7 linked regions of the Homo sapiens genome follow. The protein of the gene in region 7 purifies or fractionates together with the protein of the main gene of each other region. This does not show direct contact. Each region holds a gene or a part of one and is shown on either strand. Other genes may lie near its edges. The genes, in order: GRHL1, TOMM70, TPM4, ME2, ALDH5A1, GLUD1 and KLF3.

Evidence for each region.
Region 1: the proteins of KLF3 (region 7) and GRHL1 purify together in Homo sapiens (co-immunoprecipitation; one large-scale study listed by IntAct). This does not show direct contact.
Region 2: the proteins of KLF3 (region 7) and TOMM70 purify together in Homo sapiens (affinity purification with mass spectrometry, with the first as the bait; one large-scale study listed by BioGRID). This does not show direct contact.
Region 3: the proteins of KLF3 (region 7) and TPM4 purify together in Homo sapiens (affinity purification with mass spectrometry; one large-scale study listed by BioGRID and IntAct). This does not show direct contact.
Region 4: the proteins of KLF3 (region 7) and ME2 purify together in Homo sapiens (affinity purification with mass spectrometry, with the first as the bait; one large-scale study listed by BioGRID). This does not show direct contact.
Region 5: the proteins of KLF3 (region 7) and ALDH5A1 purify together in Homo sapiens (affinity purification with mass spectrometry, with the first as the bait; one large-scale study listed by BioGRID). This does not show direct contact.
Region 6: the proteins of KLF3 (region 7) and GLUD1 purify together in Homo sapiens (affinity purification with mass spectrometry, with the first as the bait; one large-scale study listed by BioGRID). This does not show direct contact.

The regions. Positions count from the first base shown.
Region 1 is NC_000002.12:9,996,693-9,999,734, reverse strand, and holds part of GRHL1 (grainyhead-like protein 1 homolog), read right to left. Parts: intron 771-3,042; coding exon 706-770; intron 1-705. UniProt on the Homo sapiens protein: Transcription factor involved in epithelial development. Binds directly to the consensus DNA sequence 5'-AACCGGTT-3'.
Region 2 is NC_000003.12:100,366,590-100,370,089, reverse strand, and holds part of TOMM70 (mitochondrial import receptor subunit TOM70), read left to right. Parts: intron 1-954; coding exon 955-1,052; intron 1,053-1,923; coding exon 1,924-2,046; intron 2,047-3,500. UniProt on the Homo sapiens protein: Acts as a receptor of the preprotein translocase complex of the outer mitochondrial membrane (TOM complex). Recognizes and mediates the translocation of mitochondrial preproteins from the cytosol into the mitochondria in a chaperone dependent manner.
Region 3 is NC_000019.10:16,093,495-16,096,994, reverse strand, and holds part of TPM4 (tropomyosin alpha-4 chain), read right to left. Parts: intron 3,460-3,500; coding exon 3,397-3,459; intron 3,312-3,396; coding exon 3,242-3,311; intron 1,732-3,241; coding exon of another isoform or gene 1,649-1,731; exon of another isoform or gene 251-1,648; intron 1-250. UniProt on the Homo sapiens protein: Binds to actin filaments in muscle and non-muscle cells. Plays a central role, in association with the troponin complex, in the calcium dependent regulation of vertebrate striated muscle contraction.
Region 4 is NC_000018.10:50,877,951-50,881,917, reverse strand, and holds the start of ME2 (NAD-dependent malic enzyme, mitochondrial isoform 1 precursor), read right to left. Parts: upstream 2,801-3,967; 5' UTR 2,610-2,800; intron 1-2,609.
Region 5 is NC_000006.12:24,525,969-24,529,468, forward strand, and holds part of ALDH5A1 (succinate-semialdehyde dehydrogenase, mitochondrial isoform 2 precursor), read left to right. Parts: intron 1-2,028; coding exon 2,029-2,198; intron 2,199-3,500. UniProt on the Homo sapiens protein: Catalyzes one step in the degradation of the inhibitory neurotransmitter gamma-aminobutyric acid (GABA).
Region 6 is NC_000010.11:87,070,844-87,074,343, reverse strand, and holds part of GLUD1 (glutamate dehydrogenase 1, mitochondrial isoform a precursor), read left to right. Parts: intron 1-3,500. UniProt on the Homo sapiens protein: Mitochondrial glutamate dehydrogenase that catalyzes the conversion of L-glutamate into alpha-ketoglutarate. Plays a key role in glutamine anaplerosis by producing alpha-ketoglutarate, an important intermediate in the tricarboxylic acid cycle.
Region 7 is NC_000004.12:38,688,199-38,691,698, reverse strand, and holds part of KLF3 (Krueppel-like factor 3), read right to left. Parts: intron 3,115-3,500; coding exon 2,628-3,114; intron 1,971-2,627; coding exon 1,820-1,970; intron 1-1,819. UniProt on the Homo sapiens protein: Binds to the CACCC box of erythroid cell-expressed genes. May play a role in hematopoiesis.

The sequences.
Region 1 (3,042 bases), on a different chromosome or scaffold from region 7:
CTTATCCATGCCAAACATCATAGACAGACAAAAAAGAACTAAAAATACTAATTTCTAGACAAAGCAGCAACGTGACATAACTTGGAAATAGGATCCTGAGCAGGAGGGTAGAGCAGGGCATGGGCTGCAGAGGCAGGGAATACCAACCATGGCCCCGAAAAGCCTCTTGAACTCTGAGCCTCAGCCGCCTGTCTATAAATATAAACAAGCCCTGAGACCAGCTCAGAAAGAAGACGTGAAGACCAAGCGCAGCACCGTGGGACGTGCCCAACCCAGTGCCCGGCTCCAACGGGCTCGACACACGGAGGTGCTGCCCTGGCCATCCTCAGTGGCGCTGGCCACACACCCTGGAGTGTGGAGCCATGGCACTGCTGCCAGGCATGTGGAGGGCAAAGAAGGTGACTTGGAGAAACAATACACAAAGATCTCCTCAAGGCAGATCAATTTTATCTAAGTAATTTCGTATATAATTTAGAAAAGCCACATTCCAGCACCCAGGTTTCTTTGGCTGCTTCTGGACTGGGCACGATGCACACGTGTCACACTGGCACAGGGTGTGTGTCACTGGCACAGGAGGGTGTCACTAGCATGCACGGTGTGTTACATGGTGCTGGGGGGTGTCAACAGCACTGGGGGGTGCGTCACACTAGCACTGCGGGGGGCATCAGCACTTTCCGAGGTACACAGGACGCAGTGGCTGCTTACCCCTTTTTACACTTCTTGAATATTTTCCCAATCTTGTCATGGGGAACATCGTATTTGTCTGAGATCTAAAAGAGGAAAGAAAAATAATTACAAAACCCTGTATCAAGGCTTTAGAAACCAAACAACAAATATATATATATGTATATATATGTGTACATATATATACGTATATATATGTGTACATATATATACGTATATATATATGTGTACATATATATACGTATATATATGTGTGTACATATATATACGTATATATGTGTGTACATATATATACGTATATATGTGTGTACATATATACGTATATATGTGTGTACATATATATGTATATATATGTGTGTACATATATATGTATATATATGTGTACATATATATGTATATGTATATGTGTACATATATATGTATATGTGTACATATATATGTATATATATATGTGTACATATATATGTACATATGTATATATATACATGTACACACATATATACATATGTATATATACGTATATATATGTATATATATACGTATATATATGTATATATACGTATATATATGTATATATATACGTATATATATGTATATATATACACACACACACACACACACACACATGCATAGTCACTCGACTTTTTGTTTTTCAAAAACGCAGACACAAAGACATGGAAAAGCCCCAGCTCGTGTGCTGGGGGCCTCCAGCTCTCCTCAGCCCGGCTGCCCCTCACTGTAATGAGCTTCTGGGGAGCTGTGGCTGTCTTCCTTTCGGGACATAGAGGCTATTTTTAATATTTTTAAAGAGAATGGGTGAATTGCTCCAAGGACAAACAGCTGATTCACTCTAGATCAAACGTTACACTTGTCATCCAGACCATCCTCAGGCTGGCATCACCAGCTTCACCTCAAGCCACAGAGCAAAGCTCAAGGTGGCACTGAGAAACAGAGCCTCAGGTGGCAAACGTGCAGATCCTGCCAACCTTCCAAACACGTGTTTCAGACCAGACCCCAGCTCCAAGTTCTCACCACACAAACCCTTTTTCTTTTCTGTACGAGTGGATGATAATACTTTGTGTTCTGACATGTAAGACCTGTCATGAGTTCCTCGTGAGCCATGAACAGTTATGCTGGCCCAGTAATTCTGCATCCTCTTTACTCTCCTCTTTCCCTGTAATCAGAATTTGCATGTTTTTTGTTTGTTTGTTTTTTGTTGTTTTTTTTTTTTTGAGACGGAGTCTTGCTATGCCAGGCTGGAGTACAGTGGCGGGATCTCAGCTCACTACAACCTCCACCTCCCTGGTTCAAGTGATTCTCCTGCCTCAGCCTCCCGAGTAGCTGGGATTACAGGCGCCTGCCACCAAGCCTGGCTAATTTTTTGTATTTTTAGTAGAGACAGGGTTTCTCCATGTTGGCCAGGCTGGTCTCGAACTCCTGACCTCAGGTGATCCTCCTGCCTCTGCCTCCCAAAGTGCTGGGATTACAGGTGTGAGCCACCGCACCTGGCCAGTTTGCATGATTCTTAAGACATGATGAAGGGTCATCAAAAGGCAAGAAAAGAGAAACCCAGGGGACATCCTAGGAGGCAGGAAGTGACAGTGGGAACGGCGCTGCCTGTGCTGTGGGCAGGCAGGGATGCACTGAGTGACACCCGTGGACTTGGGGCGCCTGGCTGAGAGACCGCACAGCAGCTCCCCAAACCCACGCCCCATCTCCCTGCTTTATTAATCTTCATGGCACTCATCAGTACCTGAAAAATGACCTCAACTTCTTTGCTTATTTTGGTGTCTGTGTCTTCCTAACTACAAAATAAACTCCATTCAGCACTGTGTCACTGACGCGCATAACTCCAGTGCCCGCCACAGTGCCTGGCATGAAGCAAGCCCTTTATCAAGATGTGTTAAATGAATTCAACACACTACAGTCATCAGAGGGAGCTGGGGGAGATGCTTTTAGCCCAATTATGGACACACTTTGAGCTTAAAGATCTCTACGGTCTCTAGGAGACAGGCTGGTAAATATCTGCACTCAGTGCTGATGACATGCGTTTTTCCAGTGCACAGCTGGAACGGGAAATTAACACAGCAGCCTTCCATGTTTCCTCTCTTACTGATATCCCCACAGGGAGCATGGGGTCAGTTTATTCCAGCCTCGTGCTGAGATCCTCGTAAGATGGACTTACGGCCATCACTGGTTACACGTCTACTTTCTCTGCAATAGGCTGTAGTGAGGTCTTGATGCAAGTTCAGTAATTTCCTAGGATTGGGAGTTTTAAAGGTAGACTGAGGAGCCACTGTTTTTATGTATGAAGTTTTTAAGATTGTACTTGATTAAAAATCACTTTTGTTAGCTTCT
Region 2 (3,500 bases), on a different chromosome or scaffold from region 7:
AAATATTTAAGTTGGCTTATTTTAGATATGAAAAGACTAAGAGCCATACAGCTAAATATAATGACTCACATACTTCTTAAAAGTCATCTTATAAATAACCGGGGTTAACTGAATATGGGCTAGGTATTATAGATAATATTAGGGAATTATTTTTGGAGATATATTAGTTGAAGCAGTTATAGCTGCTTTTTAAAAAATCAATAATTTTAAACAAATAGCTCTGAAGACATTTAACACATACATCTTAACTTATACTTCCAAATGAATATTGCCCTTAAGATAATTCCCTGGCCAGGTGCGGTGGCTCACTCCTGTAATCCTAGAACTTTGGGAGGCCGAGGTGGGTGGATCACCTGAGGTCAGGAGTTCGAGACCAACCTGGCCAACATGGTGAAACCCCATCTCTACTAAAAATACAAAAATTAGCCAGGCAAGGTGTTGGGCGCCTGTAGTCCCAGCTACTCAGGAGGCTGAGGCAGGGGGATCACTTGAACCCAAGAGGCGGAGGTTGCAGAAAACAGAGATTGCGCCACTACACCCCAGCCTGGGTGACAAGAATGAAACTCTATCTCAAAAAAAAAAAAAAAAAAATTCCCTTGGGCTGTATTATGATAAATTATGAATAAGTGATGTGACTGTACCTATGAGAATGTGATATTAGAGCTGTGACTAAGAATGGGATTATCTGTATTGAACAGTTTACCAGAGATTATCTGCTGTGGCATATAACTAACCACTTGCTGAAGAAAGAGGATAGTTAAGATTTCATATTTATAGCAGTGCCACCTAAAAACTCCGATAATTAAGATGTAAAATGTAAATCAGTCTGTATCCCCAAAACGTGATAATTTTGTAATAATGAATGAAGTAAATTTTTATAATGAATAATAAGTATACTTTTAACTGCTTAGGTTGACGGTTACCTTAATATAACTGAAGTATCTCCTCACATAGGCATTAACAGATCAACAACAGTTTGGTAAAGCTGATGAAATGTATGATAAATGTATTGATTTGGAACCAGATAATGCTACAACATATGTTCATAAAGGGTATGTATTTTTGTGATTGTTCCAATGAGATAATAAATTTCTTGCATAGTAATAAAATGTATTTATTTTGGCCACTGAGGAAGGGGACTGTGGTAGAGAAGTTAATTGACAAACTTCTTAATGCTCCTAGATGTCTTTTCATTCTTACAGAAATTAGTTAAGGAGGCCAGGCGCAGTGGCTTACACGTAATCCTAGTACTTTGGGAGGCCGAGGCAGGCAGATCATCTGAGGTTGGGAGTTCGAAACCCTCCTGACCAACATGGTGAAACCCGGTGTCTACTAAAACTACAAAAAATTAGCCAGGTGTGGTGGCACATGCCCGATTCCCAGCTACTCAGCAGGCTAAGGAGTGAGAATCACTTGAACCTGGGAGGCAGAGGTTGCAGTGAGCCAAGATTGCACCACTGCTCTCCAGCCTGGGCGGCAGAGTGAGGCTCTGTCCCAAAAAAAACAAAAAGAAAGAAATTAATGTACTATTCTTGCTCTGTGTTAAGGGTTTTAATTTCAAACTGAACATCCTGTCAGCTGTTGGCTTATATCCAAATACGAAGCATACACAAGTGTTCGTGTCCTTGCGTACTTGAATTATCCTAAGAAACTTCACTTAAATTTATATAAAGTGAAAAATAAGGGATGCAAGATTGGTAATAGAGCCTAGACCATTGAACACTTTTTGTAATAAGGAACTTAGACTAGCAAACCAATATAAGCTGAGAAAAAAAACACAATTTGATGCTGATTATATATTGCCTTATAAGTTATAAGTTAACTTATAAGTTCATTGAAGGCAGAAATTGAGTCATATTAATGTGTGTGTATTCCTACTGATACTGGGCCATGGTCACATCTGACATTTTTTTGCATTTGCAGTTTACTTCAACTTCAGTGGAAGCAAGATCTGGATAGAGGTTTGGAACTTATCAGCAAGGCTATTGAAATTGACAATAAATGTGATTTTGCCTATGAAACCATGGGAACTATTGAAGTACAAAGGTAACTTCTGGAGTCTGTTAGGAAATATATGGTAGCTCCATAGATATTTAGCTTTTTGTTCTTATTACGTACATGTTAAAGTCTGTTATGTTCTTTCCTCTTTTCACCTGTATTATTCACGTTGGAAAAAAAAATGTGCTAAGGCAGTGACATAAGGATTGGTAGCCAAGTTGCCAGAAAATCTGGACCCTCCTCCAAAGAAGCATCCAGCCAAATGGCTGGGCAAGTTGCAACATCAACTCAGAGCCCCTGAATTTTCTTTAAAATCAGAGTTGGATAAGAACATTTTTTGCAGCTCTGTCCTTAACCTCTTATTTTGTGTAAGTGTTTATCCAGAGTTGCTCTTAAGATCCACCATTAAAAGGTGACAGCTGTTTTATATATGGGATTTATTGTATACCATCTTAATACTGGTATTGCCATTCATTTGAGTTTCCTACTTTAGGCCAAGTATTAAACTTTAGATGTTTCCTAAGTACTATTTCAATTAATCTTCATCCCCATCTTTATAAAGGTGGAGATTATATGATCCCTAATTTAACTGATGCCCAGAGGGCTTAGGTTTACAAGGTTGCACAGTAAGCCAATAGAGAAGACAGGGTTTGAGCTCATATATCACTGATACCACAGTCACTGATCTTGGCATTATCACTTGTCAGGAAGCAGCATGAGTTTTCTTAATTCCCTATCATTCAGCCCCTCCTGTAGTCCTCTCCCTGCTCTACAGTAGGCAGAATATATATAGGCTGGTAAAAAAAAAATTGTGTTTCTTTTAACCATTCTGTACCCACAGTGGCATGTAAATATTAAGTTTTTTTTTCTTCTTTTTATGAGACAGAGTCTCCAGCCCAGGCTGGAGTACAGTGGCACAATCTTGACTCTGCAACCTCTGCCTCCCAGGTTCAAGTGATTCTTGTACCTCAGCCACCCAAGTAGCTGGGACTACAGGCATGCACCACCATGCCCAGCTAACTTTTTGTATTTGTAGCAGAGATGGGCTTTTGCCATGTTGGCCAGGATGGTCTCAAACTCTCGGCCTCAAGTGATTTGCCCATCTCAGCCTCCTGAAGTGCTGGGATTACAGGTGTGAGCCACTGCACCCAGCCTAAATTATTTCTTAATTGCTAATTTGTTAATGTGAATAAAATATTCTTGTACTAGAATAGGATAGGGTGGTAGTTCTTAATCTTTTTTGAGCGAAGCTGTGGATTCTTCTTAGAATAATGCACACAAAAACACTTTGCTTTTAATTCAAGGCTTTCATAGATCCTGGGTTAACTAAAGACCTCTGATAGGGTTTGATGGAATTTTGTTCACGTTAATTGAACTTTGAAAAAATCCATTCTGAACCTTACAATTAAATAAGTGAATTTGAATAAATGAAATTGCAGATTATCCTAGGATTTTGCAGATCTGCTAGCTGTTGGCCTAATGCCAGAACATGAACTCTTGAA
Region 3 (3,500 bases), on a different chromosome or scaffold from region 7:
GCAACAGAGTGAGACCCTGTCTTGAAAAAAAAAAAAAAAAAAAAAAAAAAAAAAAAAAGAGTGACCTTGTTTTCTCCATATTCCTCATGTAGGAAAAAGCATGACCTTTTATTACCCACAGGTCAACCTTAAGAGCTATTCTAAACTAAAGCAAGGTTCCTGTTATAACTAACTGAAATATGAATGGAGATTGATGTTAGCAGTCTCAGGCAATTCTGGAATTCGGGAAAAGAATTCTAAATTCACGTCTTCTGACGTCACAGCACTTTCCCTGTTCATGGAGGCCCGTTCACTCCTTGTACAGTCAGTTTTCTAAGGGCAGGGCGTGGAGGTGAACTTCCTCCCAGGACTGGGAGCTGGATGAACAGTGAAGAGTAAAGCCACGGGAAGCCCCAGTCACCACACTCACAGTGTAACACAGAGAAAAGACACAAGAAAAGGAGGAAATGGAGATCAAAATGTCACTGCCGCTGTTTGAATCTGTAGCTCAAGCCCCATTCAAGGGGAGCCTCATTTTTGACACAGGCTTGCTGGTTTTTCCAAATCCCTGTTGACTCTTAAGCTGCCTAAGCGGTTTACAAGGATGAGCCTCCATTCACAACAATTTCTATTTAAGGAAAAACCATTGGGGATGGGCGCGGTGGCTCATGCCTGTAATTGCAGCACCCTGGGAGGGTGAGGTGGGCAGACTGCCTGAGCCCAGCAGTTCAAGACCAGCCTGGGCAACATAGTGAAACCCTCCCGCTTCTACAAAAAGTACAAAAATGGCCAGGCGTGATGGCTCAAGCCTGTAATCCCTGCACTTTGGGAGGCCAAGGCAGGCGGATCACAAGGTCAGGAGTTTGAGACCAGCCTGACCAACATGGTGAAACCCTGTCTCTACTAAAAATCCAAAAGAAAAATTAGCCAGGTGTGGTGGTGTATGCCTGTAATCTCAGCTACTTGGGAGGCTGAGGCAGGAGAATTGCTTGAACCCGGGAGGCGGAGGTTGCAGTGAGCCGAGATTGCACCACTGCACTCCAGCCTGGGCGACATAGTGAGACTCCGCCTCAAAAAAAAAAAAAAAAAGTACAAAAATTAGCCTTGTGTGGTGGTGCACACCTGTAGTTCCAGCTACTTGGGAGGTCGAGGTGGGAGGATAGCTTGAGCCTTGTAGGTGGAGGTTGCAGTGAACTATGATGGTGTCACTGCACTCCAGCCTGGGTGACAAAGCAAGACCCTGTCTCAAAACAAAAAAACAAAAAAAAATTATTGGCATGCAGATGCCGTTAGCTAACAGCGGTATCTGAGAGCACATGCCCAGTTTGCTTTTGTTTTCACGTCTTCAGAAAAGCATCCTGTAGGCATAATTTTCTTTTTGTAATAAGCTTTTCATTTGTGAGTGAGAGAGGCTAACCACCCACTTTGTGTTTCAGGCTATGGTTAAGGGCACACAGCTACAGCTCAAAGGCAGCAAGTGGAGAAAATGAGAATGAGGGGGCATGAAGAGGAGGACTGCCCGTCTTTATTTCGGTTGTAGAGTCACAGACACATCAGAAGAAGGCTCTGACGTTCAAACCAGAAGGCAGGCCACCGGAGCTCCTAGAAGCCCACAGGGGCGTAGGAGGCACCATGTGAGAAGGACAGAGGGCAGCGACCTGGCTGCCTCTCAGAGAGAGGTCATGTCGTTGAGAGCGTGGTCCAGTTCCTCGCTGATAGCTTTGTACTTGAGCTTCTGAGCGTATAACTCATCTAGAGGGCGGAGGTCCCCAGGGAGACAGTTCAGAAGTACAGGGGACAGAAGGCAAGGGTCGGAATGGAGTGCCACAGATGAACCACAAGAGGAAGAAAAAAACACGTGAGCAAACAAAGCACAGACTAGGAGAAAGCTGTGTTCCATGTGAAACAGATGAAGAAAACCAAAGATCTATGGAGTTGATCTCTAAGTGGTTTGAGGTTCTGCAGGGGGATTAGCCACAATGAAGCTTCAAAACAGTGGTAACCAGAAGTGACAGAGCTTCCCCCCACTGGTCCCCACCCCTCAGTTTATTTCGGATTTCCAATGACGTCACCCTGTCCAAAGGTCGTATTTTGGAATGGGGCATTTTCCCTTATATGGGAACCTCACTTCCCCAAAAAAACATTGGAAGATATGGTCTGAAGAATGTGTCCTTTCTGGGTGGGATGGGCAGTTTGGAAGATTCCATTTGAACCCCAAGATTCTGGAATTTCTGAGGCCGAATGTTAAACACTGGAACTCTTGAAAAAATTCTGGGAGAAGTGGGCCCCAGACTTGCAGACTAGTCTTTATTGCAGTCCCTACACTTTCTGTATTTCTGTTTTTTTTTTTAAATACTATGATAAGCTTTGAGCTCCCTGGGACAGAGCTTCTGCAAAAATGCAAGGCATGTAAAAAAAAAATGCAAGGCATCTATCAGAAATGAGCAAACAGAAGGAAATTGTGAAGTTTTTTTTTTTTTGAGACGGAGTCTGGCTCTGTCACCCAGGCTGGAGAGCTGTGGCGTGATCTTGGCTTACTGCAACCTCCGCCTCCCAGGTTCAAGGGATTCTCCCTGCCTCAGCCTCCCCAGTAGCTAGGATTACAGGCGTGCACCACCACGCCTGGCTAATTTTTTCTATTTTTGGTAGAGACGGGGTTTCACCATGTTGGCCAGGTTAGTCTCAAACTCCTGATTTCAAGTGATCCGCCCGCCTCGGCCTCCCAAAGTGCTAGGATTACAGGCTTGAGCCACTGCGCCTGGCCTGAGATTTTTAATTTATTATTAATATTTTTTTAATCAGAGAGAGCCATACTCTTTTCTCTATACTTGCTCATGGGACTAACTAAGCAGAGATATTTTACCTCCTGAAAGTGGCAATTCAATTAGCCAGGTGTGGCGGCACACGCCTGTAGTCCCAGCTACCTGGGAGGCTGAGGCAGGAGAATCACTTGAACCCGGGAGGCGCAGGTTGCAGTGAGCCGAGATGGCGCCACTGCACTCCATCCAGCCTGGGAGACAGAGCCAGACTCCGTCTCATAGAAAAAAAAAAAAAAAAAAAAAAGGGCCATTCAAGCCTGAATGCTTTGCATTATCCTATTCCAGTGTTCCAGGACATCCAGATATGACATCACTATGCGCTTTACTTTCCTAAGGCAAACAAAGCCCAACCCAGCCCCTCCACAAACATTCCCCAACTGTCCGTGGATGTGTCCCAGAGGGGAAGGCAGGGCAAGGCAAACATTTAGATGGTAACCTCATACCTTCCAGGTCATCAATTGTCTTTTCCAGTTTTGCAACCGTTCTCTCTGCAAATTCAGCACGGGTCTCAGCCTAGATAAGAAGAAAGGAGTTACTATCATGGCTTCAAGACCAGCCCCAGGAGAAACCAGAGCTCGCTGGGTGCCACCACACTCACCTCTTTCAGTTTGTCAGACAGAAGTTTAATTTCTTCTTCATATTTGTCCTCCTTTTCAGAATACTGTGGGAGAAACCAAAACACTGCTTTAAGAAAAGGAGGCC
Region 4 (3,967 bases), on a different chromosome or scaffold from region 7:
AAATGGGAACGTTAAACTACAAGACCTATTTAATAGGCTATTTTAAGATTTAAATTAGATAATTCATTAAGATGCTTATCACAATGCCCTCTAGGTGCTCTAGAAAGGCTAGTTATCATAAGCATTACTATTAGTAGTTGTAGACTAAGGTGGTCACAAGGTGCCTTCTAAATGCCTGCTTGTTTCTGCATCAACATCTTTTAATGATCAAATTAATATAAGAGGCTATAAGGATAATCATGATTAACATTTATTCAAAATATTTCAAATCAAATCTCAAAGTCAAGAATGAGAATCTGGATGGTATACAAATACAGGCAACATCAAATGTCATCCTAAACAAGTATATACAGAATATATTTTTTATCACTTTTGAAATTTGTACATATTGATCAAAGGAGGTACAATATGCCACCATAAAATCAAAATCGTAACTTTCAAATAAAATAGTTAATTTCTAATAAAAGTTATCTTTTTATAAAGTCAATGTAATTTTTATTTAGTGTGAATTTTGTCCTGTAATATTAATCCTTAGTAAATATAGGTTTTAATGTTATTTGTGTTTTAAAATACGGCTAGTTCACCGGGCATGGTGGCTCACTCCTGTAATCCCAGCACTTTGGGAGGCCGAAGGAGGTGGAGCACTTGAGGTCAGCAGTTCGAGACCAGCCTGAAAAACATGGTGAAACCCTGTCTCTACTCAAAATACACACACACACAAATTAGCCGGGCATGGTGGTGCATGCCTGTAGTCCCAGCTACTCAGAAGGCTGAGGCAGAAGAAGCGCTTGAACGCGGAAGGCAGAAGTTGCAGTGAGTGGAGATCGCAACACTGCACTCCAGCCTGGGCAACAAGAGCAAAACTCCGTCTTAAAGAGAATAAAATATGTCTAGTTTGTCTGAAATTCACCAAAATCAATTAGAGTTTTTAACTTAATATACAGATTATACATACATAGCTGTAAGTTTTTAATTTTACAAAAGAAGTTCCCAAATGGTAAATGGGTTTTTTCCTTTATGAATATTTTGTTTTCATAAATATATTAAAAGACAAAAACATATAAACACCCTCTAAGGGTGTCACCCATAAGCAGTTCTCAGAAATAGCTACTAAGCATAAATATATTATTCTCAAGAGAATATTTCTACAGAAGCATAGCCCAACATTTCCTATTAATGCATGATAAAAGTCATATTAGGAGCTAGGCGCGGTCGCTAACGCCTGTAATCCCAGCACTTTGGAAGGTCAAGGTGGGTAGATCACTTGAGGTCAGGAGTTCGAGACCAGCCTGGCCAATACGGCGAAGCCCCCGTCTCTATTAAAATTACAAAAATTAGCTGCCCTCAGGTGATCCACCCACGTCGGCCTCCCAGAAGTGCTGGAATTACATGCGTGAGCCACCGCGAACGGCCTATATGTATGTTTTTAAAAACAACTGTTTCTCTCATCTAATTTACAGAGTATTTGTAAATTGAAAATCAAAATTATGGGTACAACATCGCAATTAGCTTAACAACATGAGCAATGCTTAAGGAGTATACACGTTTAAGGGAGTGGGGGTGGAGGATGCAGCTATGAAGTTAGACCACTTGAGTTTGAATCTAGGCTTTGTCACGTTAAAACTGTGGTCTTAGGCAAGTTACTTAACCTACCTAAACCTTAGTTTCCTGGTTTGTAAAGTGGAGGCAGTAACAGTATCAACCTCAAAGGGTTATTTTGAGATAATCCGTGTAGAAACTAGCGCTCTGCCTGTCACTAGCAATTAATACATGCTACTATTGTTATCGTTATCAACTGCAACACTAACAGAAATAGCAATGCTATTAACCTCTTTGCTTAGAGGTGATAGCCACAAGCATCAGGAAGGTAAATCCACAGACAGAAGATGATAAAACGTTTTGTAAGAAAGCACGTGTTAATTTGATCACGCTTCTCACCACAAGCAACGTAAATTTTCTAGAATTATCTCTGGAACCAAAAAAGAAAGTCGAAACCTAGGACCACCTAGGTAACACCACATGCAGAGATAGTTATCGCCAGCGTGAAAGAAACACCTGCCAATCCCGGTCCACAGATGGCATTTAATAATAGACGGAATCGGTCCAATCTCAGAACTCTCCAGCCCGCAGCAAGTCTTTTTTTAAAGGGAGGAGCCACACACACAGCCTAACTCCTGCCGTTAACTCGGCCCGACTGAATAAAGGAGATAGGCTTGCCAAAGGGTTTCCAGCCACAGAAGTCCTTTTGTGGAGGGGTGCAGAAAGAGCGAGAAAGAGATGCTGGCGTTTGGAGGCCCAGGGCCTCGCTCCCGGGCGAGAGCGGGGCGCCCAGGCACCAGCCGGCGGAGGAACCTGGAAATCGCGCGCCGGGTAGAGCCGCGGCCGCTGGAACCTGGGTCGCCGCGATGTAGCCGGTCCCTCGCCCTCAGCCCGGACTCCGCAGACCGCTTCCCTTCCCCCAGCCCCCACCGCCAGGCCGGGAACGGCGGGGGCCGCACGCGCGGAGGCCGGAGGCGCGGCAGCGCTGGGCTCTCGGGGCCGGGCCAGGGGAGGCCGGCGCCCGCTCCTCTCCCGGACCCCCGCCCGGGCCCCACCGCGCCGGGCCTTACCAGAGGTCTCGCGCCGCGACAGGTGGTACACCCGGCGGAGAGGCCGCGCCCTGCCGCCCGCCCTGGCGATGCTCAGCTCCCGCGCCGCCCGGCCCTCCCCTTCTGCGAGCCTCCCGGAGCCGCCGTCAGCTCAGGCTCACACTGGCGCGGGCGGCCCCACACGCAGAGGCGGCCCGAAGAGCGGCCGAGAGAGGGGAGGGCGCGAGGAGCCGGCCAGCCGCGGGGCCCGGAAGGCGTGGCCCACGGTGGAGACGGACGGGCTCGCGGGCCAATTGGAGGCAGGAACCGGCCGGAGGGGCGGGCTCCGTCTGGAGGCTTAGCTGCCGGCGCTGGGGTTCCTGTCCTCCGCGCCTTCCTCAACCCAGCTCCTGGAGGTTACGGTTCTGAGGCGGGGCGGGCGGCCTCGTGGACGCGATGCTGAGGATGTGAGAAGTGCAGTGCGGAGGAGGAGGTGGAGCTCCGCCGCTCCATGAAGGAAGCCGGGGCTGGCCGACCGCGCCCCCCAGCACTCCTGGCCCGGGGGTCCCAGTCTCCGAACCCGCGGAGGCCAGGGAAGCTGGGAGTTGGGGTCTGTCCTGCCTGAGCCACAGAGGAAGGGGGAGAACGGGAGGGCAGGAGACGGCAAAGGAAGGAAGAAGAGGACCCAGGAAATGCGAGGCTTCCGCACTTCAGCGACGCTTTCACTTTCCGAGCTGTTTTGTGTGCTTAGGACTTGCTCTTCTGCAGAATTCTTTGCCACTCCTCATGGCTGCTGGCAAGGTTATTGGCCTGCGGTGAATTTACCAATCACCTCCACTGTCACAGTCACCATAAATAGATGCTCAATGTTCTGCCTCAGAAAAGCACCGGAACACTTAATTGTCTTGTCCTTGAAAGCCGCAGGGACCGTGCCTTCCAACATCCCTACCCCCGCCCTCCCAACGGTTGTGACATGGGAGGATATTTCTTCACCCTTATTTCAGAAAATGTTATCACCCAAAACTCTTTACTATAATGAGCTTGTGTACTCTTAAAACAAGGCATGGTAATGACAATTTCAAAAATAAGATGTAAAATATAAAAAAAGAGGCAAGGCAGAATAAAATTAAAAGTGATGGAAATGTAGGATTGAGAAGATGGAGTGGAAGTAGGGAAGAGTGAATTGCTCCCTCCTAAACTCTGACAATTAAATAAAATCTGGGGCAATCGCCCCTCTCTGAACATTGAAGGGTGGGGCCTGTGAGGAGGAAACTCCAGTTAGGTGATAATCCATAGGTGTGGTTGCTATAATAACCACCGCAGGCAAGGAGAGGTTATAAATATGAATGACCTAAAGTAACTCTGCTTGCCAGGAACTTACAAGATGCAGCAGGTTGGAT
Region 5 (3,500 bases), on a different chromosome or scaffold from region 7:
AGTAGGTATCTAGGCAGACTACAGCTTCAAGAGCGAGGCTAGGTACCTCAGGGTAGGGCTCTCTCGACTTTGCCTTTTGGGGAAGGGAGCTGCCCTTATGTGAAGCCTGCAAGTTAGAATAAACCCAAGCTTAAAACAGCAAAGACCACTCATGCCACACATCCCCAAATTGATCAACCCAGTCCTTGTGTGTGTGTGTGTCCCCCAAACACACTGCTGGAGCTGAGAAGGAGCTGACCAGGTTAGTTTCGACAACTCAGTCCTTCATTCAGAAAGATGAACAACCAAGGATCATGATGGGAAAACCACCAGCACATAAGAGGAAAGGTCAGGAAGAACAAACAGAATAGTCCCTGAAGGAAGCAGATAAATTAGGGAACTGGAAGGAAATTTTCTAAAAATCTCATAGTGTCCTGCAAGAGTTTTGGGAAGATAGTACATCTGTAAACTGTTAATAAGAAGTATGTTCTAGGCTTAAAGTATAATAATAATAAAAAAAGAAGTATGTTCTAGGAAATGAAGCAATGAAAACAAAGAGTCTGTAGAAATTAGACATATGACTGTCACAAGATTCGGTACCTGAAGTAGATGATAAAATTTCGGAGATCTTATGGAGTTTAAAGCAAACTATAGAGAGGCAAAAAATATAATAGAAATGCAAAAAAAAATCAGAACTAATCTGAACTCCTGTTAATACCCGTCCAGTAGTAGGAGTTCTGGAGTGAAATAATTGGGAAAATGGAGGAAGTGACATTACCAAGTAAATAATAGATGGAAACTTCTCAGAGTTAGGGGAAAATAATTATTCTGCAGATTGAAAGATTTCACTGCTTACCAAGTAGGATGAATGAAAAGGGAATATATATATATCTTCTCTATATATATATATTCTATATATATATATCTTCTATATATATATTCTATATATATATCTACTATATATATATTCTATATATATCTACTATATATTCTATATATATATCTAATATATATATATGTGTGTGTGTATATATATATATATATATATATATATATATATAGTATTGCTAAAATTTTAGAATATCAGAGCATAGAAGATCCTAGGAGATTTCAGAGAGGAAAAAGCTATCAAGAAGAAAAAGGGTGAGAACCATTTTTGGCTCAAACTTCCTCAGCAACACCGGAAGTGGAGAAGTGCACTCAAAGTTCTGAAAGTTATTTTGTATCAGAATTCTGTACTCAAGCAAATTATCAATCAGGTGGAGTACAAAACACCAGAAACTTGGTGTATGAAAATTCAGAAACTAGACCACATCCAGTGCATCTTTTTTAAAACAACTACTTGGCCAGGCCTCGTGGCTCACTCCTGTAATCCCAGCACTTTGGGAGGCCAAGGCGGGTGAATCACGAGGTCAGGAGTTCGAGACCAGCCTGGCCAAGATGATGAAACCCTGTCTCTTCTAAAAATACAAAAATTAGCCGGGCGCGGTGGTGGGTGCCTATAATCCTAGCTACTCGGGAGGCTGAGGCAGGAGAATCGCTTGAACCTGGGAGGCAGAGGTTGCAGTGAGCCAAGGTCATGCCACTGCACTCCAGCCTGGGTGACAGAGCGAGATTCCATCTCAAAAACAAATAAATAAATAACAACTACTTGAGATTATGTGTGTCAGAAAGCAACAAAAACTCAGTTCAGGAAATAGGACAACATGGGATCCAAGAAGCTAGAAATAACCGCAGAATGCAATGAAAGCAAATCCAAGCAAACGGCTGAGCCGCAGGCCTAGAAAGAAGCGAATATATATTAGACCATTCAACAAATAGGAAGATCAAACAGCTAGAAGATATCAAAGACCAAGGAGGAAGGTGGCACTCTTGCTTCTGAATCTCTGCAAATGTGGTTCCTTCTACAAAAGGAAACCAGCATGCTTTATTGTTAACCTACTTTTTTTGAAAAAGAAAAAAAAATGGAACTAGTTATAGTTTTCTGCAGTTTAAACATTCTAAAAGATTGTATCATGTGGAAAGCTTTTTTTCTTCCTCATTACACAGGTGGAGAAACAGGTGAATGATGCCGTTTCTAAAGGTGCCACCGTTGTGACAGGTGGAAAACGACACCAACTTGGAAAAAATTTCTTTGAGCCTACCCTGCTGTGCAATGTCACCCAGGACATGCTGTGCACTCATGAAGAGACTTTCGGGCCTCTGGCACCAGTTATCAAGTAAGATCCTCCAGCCAGCGGGGAGATGGGAGGAAGAATAGAAGAGAACATAGGAAACCCTGAAAGAGATTCCTGGGCTGCTTTGAGGTCTGGCCAGGAGGCAGACAGTTGTGTTGAGTCCATTGAAGAGCAGAGTGCAATTTATGGGTTTTTAAAAAAATCATAACTTATTTGGACCATAAAATTTATCAAATTCTATTTTTTTTTTCTTTTTGAGATGGAGTTTCACTGTGTTGCCCAGGCTGCAGTGCAATGGTGCGATCTTGGCTCACTGCAACCTCTGCCTCCTTGGTTAAAGCAATTCTCCTGCCTCAGCCTCCAGAGTAGCTAGGACTACAGGCACCCACCACCATACCAGGCTAATTTTTTGTATTTTTAGTAGAGATGGGGTTTCACCATGTTGGCCAGGCTGGTCTCGAACTCCTGACCTCAGGTAGTCCTGCGTTGGCCTTCCAAAGTGCTGGGATTATGGGAGTGAACCACCATGCCTGGCCTCAAATTCTTTAATTTACTTTTTCTTACTTTCTGCTGAACTCTTTTTTTTTTTTTTCTTGAGATGGAGGATGGAGTCTTGCTCTGTCACCCAGGCTGGAGTGCAGTGGCATGATCTCAGCGATTCTCGTGCTTCAGCCTTCCGAGTAGCTGGGACTACAGGCACGCGCACCATGCCTGGCTAATTTTTTGTAATCTAGTAGAGATGTGGTTTCACCATGTTGGCCAGGCTGTTCTTGAACTCCTGACCTCAAGTGATCCGCCTGCCTCTGCCTCCCAAAGTGCTGAGATCACAGGCATGAACCACCGTGCTCAGACCTGAACTCATTTTCCTTCTTAATGTATTATACCTCAAAGGATTCTTTCATTGGCCTCCATAGGACATGAACTTTCTGTGTCGTTTTGTGGTCTTTTATCTCCCATTCACAAGTAGATAATAATTTACCTGGATAAAATTTTAGGTTCAACCCTTTGGAGATATTACTCCTTTATCCACTTTTTTTTTCTTTTTTTTGTTTTTTGTTTTGATATGGAGTCTAACTCCGTCATCCAGGCTGGAGTGCAGTGGTATGATCTCGGCTCACTGCAACCTCCACCTCCTGGGTTCAAGCGATTCTCTTGCCTCAGCCTCCCGAGTAGCTGGGACTACAGGCATGTGCCACCACACCTGGCTAATTTTTATACTTTTAATAGAGACAGGGTTTCACCATGTTGGCCAGGCTGGCCTCAAACTCCTTACCTCAAGTGATCCAACAGCCTCAGCCTCCCAAAGTGCTGGGATTACAGGTGTGAGTCACCACGCCCGGCCTC
Region 6 (3,500 bases), on a different chromosome or scaffold from region 7:
TTTTTACTGGAGATGGGGCTTTGCCATGTTGGTCAGGCTGGGCTTGAACTCCTGACATCAGGTGATCCACCCATCTCGGACTCCCAAACTGCTGGTATTACAGATAGGAGCCACTGTGCCCGGCCTCCTACTATTTGTTATAGGAGCTTTTGCCAAACATACAACATTTCTGAAGATATTAATCTTTGTTTGCTTGATGTTTTTGTATCTTACTATTATCTGTGTTTATATTTTCTTTGTGCACAATCTGAATATTCTTTTTATGATATGTAAGTATTTGTCATGTACCCTTTAATTTTCAAGCAGTTTAAACCTATATTTTTTTTAATCTAGAAGGCTTCTAATTTGTTTGAATAGAATATGCATAACTACTTAATAGAATGCTTGCCCTATCAGTATAGTTAATAGAATGTTAATACTTACTGCCGAGCGTGGTGGCTCACACCTGTAATCCCAGCACTTTGAGAGGCCGAGGCAGGTGGATCACGAGGTCAGATCGAGACCATTCTGGCTAACGGGGTTTAGTAGGAATCCCATCTCTACTAAAAACACAAAAAATTTGCCAGGCGTGGTCGCGAGTGCCTGTAGTCCCAGCTACTCAGGAGGCTGAGACAGGAGAATGGTGTGAACCTGGGAAGCAGAGCTTCCAGTGAGCCAAGATCACGCCACTACACCCCAGCCTGGGCAACAGAGCGAGACTCCGTCTCAAAAAAAAAAAAAAAAAAAAAAAAAAGAATGTTAATTGTTACTTAATAATAGAATACTTGTCCTATCAATATCAGTATAGTTAAACAAAATAAGGTCTACTTAAATAGAAAATAAAGTGTATTTTTCTCTACTTTCCTTTCTTAGCATTTCCCCCACAAGTTCCCATGAAATTAAACTATAAAGGCTGGGCATGGTGGCTGGTGCTTGTAATCCCAGCATTTTTGGAGGCTGAGGTGGGAGGATCACTTGAGCCCAGAAGTTCGAGACCACCCTGGGCAATATTACAAGACCCCATCTCTACAAAAAATGAAAACATTATCCAAGCGTGATGGTGCATGCCTGTGGTCCCAACTACTAAGATGGGAGGATCCCTTAAGCCTGGGGGGTTGAGGCTGCAGTGAGCTATGATTGTGCCACTGCACTCTGGCCTGCCACACTCTGGCCTGAGCAACAAAACGAGACCACATCTCAAGAAGAAAGAGAAATGAAATAAAGCTATTCGGATTCATTTTTAGGAAAAAAAAGTCATGAAATAAATGTCATGAAATAACCTAATATAGAAATACAGTAAGTATAGGTAACTCTAAAACTTGACTAGATTTGGCCTGTCTTTGATAATAAAAGGCATTTGGGCCTTTGATGTGCCGCATACCCAGCACTACTGTGAACTTGTGCATCCTTACATGGAGTCTGTTAACGTAAGTTAATATGAGTTAACTATCTCGCTCACACTTTTATAGGAGTGCCTACTGATTCTGAGATATGGTGAATTGAAGTCATCTTCAGCCTGTTAATAGCCTTCATAATTTTTAAAAGGTCTTTCCTCTTCCCCTAAATCTCAAACACATTTTATAGTCTTGAATGGTTTCAGACTTTATTCAGTCATATTTGTCACCCATATCTGCAATATCTCCAGCTTAATTTTATCAGACTTGACAAGTACCTAATAATTCCAAAGGTCAAAAAGTGATTCATTGGAATACTGAAAGAAAACACAGCTTAAACTCTAGTAATTTGATTTATTTGCTTAATGTGCAAAAGCCTCATTGACCCAGGATGCAGTTAAATTGACGTCTTGGCCCAGAAAGCTTTGAAGCCTAGGAGGTAGGCAAAGGGAGTTTTTTCTCTCACTCCTCGGCAAACCTTCAAATTTGATGTTATTTATCTGTTATTTCCTGACTGCCCATTCCACAGAGAGTGTCAGATTGAGGCTCAGACCTGAGCCTGAACCCTGATCCTGTCACATGTGTGTTTAGCATCAGCTTGTAAATTTCTGCAAAACAAAAGAAAAAAAGAGGCTGGGATTTTTATAGGAATTTCATTGAATCTGTACACTAATTTGTGGAGTATTGCCATCTTCCCCACCCTCCCCAAAAAGGTTTTGTCCTTTCACCCAGGCTGGAGTACCAGACAGCAGTCACTGCAACCTTGACCTCCTGGGCTCAAGCAATCCTCTCACCTCACCCTCCCAAGTAGCTAGAACCACAGGGGTGTGCAACTGTGCCTAGCTAATTTTTTAATTTTTTGTGGAGACACGGTCTCATCACGTATCCCAGACTGGTCTCAAACTCCTGAGCTCAAGCAGTCTTCCCACCTCAGCTTCCCAAAATTCTGGGATTATAGGCATGAGCCACTGCACCTGACCAGTATTGCCATCTTAACCATATTAAGCCTTCCAATGCTGAATATGAGATGTCTTTCCATTTATTTAGGTCTCTTGATTTCTTTCAATGATGTTTTGTAGTTCTCATTGTAGAAGTCTTACATAGAAGTCTTACAACTAAATATTTTACTCCTTTTAATGCTATTGTAAGTGACATTGGTCTATAGTTTTCTTATGATGTCTTTGTCTAGTCTTTGTATCAGGACAATTCTAGCCTCATGGAATGAGTTGAGGAGTGTTCCTTCCTCTTCTGCTTTTGGAAAAGCTTTTGAAAGGTCAATGTTCATTCTCTTGTGTGAGTGTAAATATCACCTAAGTTCTGCAGGACCCTGATGTCTCCACCCTTCTCATCCCCTTATATCTCTGTGTACCAAAATTACCCTTTCATCTCCTACTCTATAGTCACATGCTGTTAGAAAAGTTGCTTTTTTAAAAAAGATTAACTTCTGCCTCATACCTGTTCTCTATATAAGAATTTATCTGTTAGGCCAAGCATGGTGGCTCATGCCTGTAATCCCAGCACTTTGGGAGGCTGAGGCGGGTGGATCACCTGAGGTCAGGAGTTCGAGACCAGCCTGGCCAACATGGTAAAACCCCGTCTCTACTAAAAATAAAAAAAAATTAGCCAGGCAGGTACCTGTAATCCCAGCTACTCAGGAGGCTGAGGCAGGAGAATTGCTTGAACCTGGAAGGCGGAGGTTGCAGTGAGCCGAGATCATGCCATTGTACTCCAGCCTGGGCAGCAAGAGTGTAACTCCTTCTCAAAACATAAAAATTAAAAAAAAACAAAAAGAATATATCTGTTATTCAGGAACTACTTGTTTTTTGTTTTTGTTTTTGTTTTGAGACAGAGTCTTGCTGTGTCACCCAGGCTGGAGTGTAGTGGCACGATCTCAGCTCACTGCAAGCTCCGCCTCCCGGGTTCACGCCATTCTCCTGCCTCAGCCTCCCAAGAAGCTGGGACTACAGGCGCCCGCCACCACGCCCGGCTAATTTTTTGTATTTTTAGTAGAGACAGGGTTTCACTGTGTTAGCCAGGATGGTCTCGATCTCCTGACCTTGTGATCCACTCACCTCGGCCTCCCAAAGTGCTAGGATTACAGGCATGAGCACCGCACCCGGCCTCAGG
Region 7 (3,500 bases):
ATAAGCATATTACTCATTAATCATTAAAAGCCACTGAGCTTGAGATCATCAAAAGAATATTACTTAAAATAAAAGTATTTTCTTTTGAGCAGCATTCAGAGCACAGAATATTGCCTTCAAATCTTCTTATGTAATGTTTTACGTTGCAACTCATAATAACCCAGACTTTGGAATAACACTTGTCCAGTCAACGGATCCCTCCCTTGGAGGCAGTTGGTTTTATTTAGTTTTATAGCATCTCTTTCATCACCCATGCAGGAACAACTATAAGTGCAGGCCACGTTGCTAGTTACCTTGCCAGAAACATCCCTCAACATAAAAAAAGAGTTAATTCCACCTCTAAGATGTGTCCATTTTGCCTAGTCATTTTTTCCTTTCACTTGAGTGCATGAGCAGATGCAATGGGTTGGATATGACAAGATGGCAGGAAAAGCCCTGATTCGGAAGCAGGAGATCAAGCCCAAGGCCCCTCAGTTGTTAGCAGGGTGAATATTGGCGAGTTATCTAATGTCTCAGGTAATCACTTTGCCTTTTGCTCCGACTCCCACAGGCTTGTTGTGGAGGAATAAAATAATTCCTTTGAAAACACCTGGGAAGGTTTTTTTTGAGGTAAGAGGGCACTATGCAATTGTGAGGAATAATGAAATATAACTCCATCAGAGACTCTCTCCCTACCTGCTGATGAAGTCGGCTAAGAGTTATTCTCTTCTTCATCTATTGGGGAGCATATGACAACCCAAACCAAAAATGACTATGATTGGGTGCAGTGGACAATTAATCCATGAGCTACTATGAAGGTACCTACCCAAGCTGAATGTGGATACAACTAGGATATATTTGAAGTTACCATAAAATAGTTATTCTAAAATCAGAGAATTCACATTCTGCTGTAGAGTTAATTGTGAGAGGGAGCGGGGTACAGGGGGTAGAGAAAATAAAGGAGAAAGGTGGGTAGAACATTTATTCAAGTTGGAGGAAAATGATGCAGGAGGACAATGGAAGGGACCCTGTGGAGGTAATCGTTGCCTTCGTACTAGGAAGCTGGCTGCTGAATCCAATGCTGAAGCACCATAACACAAGACAATCACAACTACAATCAATAATGAAAACAGAAATGGGGCAGCAAGATTAAGTGACTAGTCCAAGATCATACATATGGCAGAGAGCAGAGGTGGGATCCTTGTTGGACCCGAAAACCATCTTCTTAGCAACTACAAACCCAGCCTTCAGTGTAATCACTGGTGGAGGTCAAGGTTATCTACAGCAGGATCCCACAAATGAGGTTACTGAAGCTGTGTGTGGCAACTACCACATTATACCATGTTAGACCTACAAGAAACCACCATTCAGGTGCTTGGATGCTGACCAACACTGCACAGCCTTCCTACTGGATAGCAATTCTACAGGATACTATACACTCTGTAAGGACTATGTGTGTCCACATGAAAACTTTACATGATCCACAGAACACCAAGTTTAATCTATACAAGGATTCTCATAATGGAAAAACTAAGTATACATAGCCTGGAAGAATGGAAAAAAAACAAAAATAATTCATGTGGTAAGGTGCAAAATCATGGATGACTGATTCCATGAAAACTTGATGTAACTTTTGTCATAACGTTGTCAGTGTAACAGCATATTGTTTTTGGAGAGATTCTCCCATCTTGACCAGTGGTACTGGACCAGTGGCGGCCACAGATCACAAGCCGTTCCTGGTCATCCACACCACATCACACGTGTGAAATCTTGTGCTTCTGCTCCAGGTTCCAAGATGCACACTACTATGCAAATGCTGGGTAGACCTAAATATACTTACTCTTGCAACAATGCTTGCGGGGGGGACACTGAGTTCATTAAGGGGGGTGACATTTCTTCAGGATAATAATCTGTCCTCTGTGGTTCGATCCCAGGTTCTATTTTAATTTTTTTCTGTGATATAGGCTTCTCATATGATTCAATTACAGGTACTAAAAAATAAAAATAGAAAAGTCACTTCACGTACAGTTTACCAATTTCAGCTTTTAAAAGCTTACTGCATAGCTCCTACCTACAACACAGATATGACAGGTTTATTTGCCTTTGGCAGACTATAGCAGGAACAAATCTGTGGGAGATTCTCACCTCTCCTGACCATTATTTTGCCAGTAAGCAGCAAATATAGGGACCTAGATTATAAGACACCAGCCCTGAAATGATTCGTTCTTATAATTCTGGATTATTTCCTTTCAACCCCTTAGTCCTCTATGACCAGCTGATAAACAAGGTAGCTTTTGATCACCATTAGTTTTCACCACAATCAAAAAGGATTTATTAAATGCCTTTTGTACCTAGAACCATGTTGGTATTCAAGAAAGCAACATAAAGTCAAGATTCTTTCTATCCCCAAGTTGACCATTACATAGTGAAAGTAATCATGTCATGGTATCAAACAGACAGCCTGATTCTTGGGATCTCTTCCAGTATCAACACTTTGGGGGGGCGGGGGAAGGAAATGCCTTAGGCAGATGAGTATTTCCTTTGAAGAGTTCAACAGCTCTTGCCCCCATGCTTCCTCACCCACCCCATCTGGTGAAGCGCCAGTACGCTAAGCAAGTGCAGCAGCATGGAGCAGTGGCGGAATTTACCTTGCATGCTACTACTGGAATTTTCCATCTCCTCCGATAAGGAGACCATGAGAGGCTGCTGGAGGTGACTTGTGTACATAAAGGGGACGGGCTGCACCACCACCGGCTGGATGACGGGCAGGATCCCCGGGCTCCGTATTCCATGCCGCGAGAGGGCAGCTGCCATCACTGGTGGCATGGACAGCGGCACGCCGAAGGGCTGCACGCCTGGAGAAGGGGGTGAGTATTTTTTTATCGGTGGGCTGGAAGAAGGCATGCTCAACCCAGGCGAGGCTCTCCGGTGTGAGGACGGGAACTTCAGAGAGGAGGGCGAATTCCCAGCCGAAGGGGGTGAACTCCGCTTGTTCACCGTGAGGTCCACTGGCTCCATCTGTATTCCGTGCGACAGACCTTCTGGGGTCTGAAAGAACTTCTCAGGCAATGGTGTGGAGTAGATGACCCCATACTTGTTAGGCTTCATGGATTCCATGTAATTAGATGGGTATGACTATTAGAAAAGAAAAGGAAAACGTGTCAACAGCCAAATAAGTCCATTTACTTGAAACATGAATTAAGAAAAATATGCTAACAAGGCACTTAACAATTACATGGGCTTTACAAAATAGTTTAGATTTCGATATATATGTGACCTTAAAAAAATGCTCAAAGAGGTGGTCTCAACATTAAAAATGCTATGAGAGGCGGTCTCAAAAATATTAAAACTAAGATCAATGTGGTCACTACTGCAGATGAAAAATCTGAAATTTAATCCTAAGATGATTCCTGTGTCAAACATTAAGGCCGATACCTGGCAAAATTCTAAGACAGGTGATAGCACAGGCTTGGGGGCCATTATCATTAGGAGTCAGAGGTGGGCATCACAAGAACCAGTCA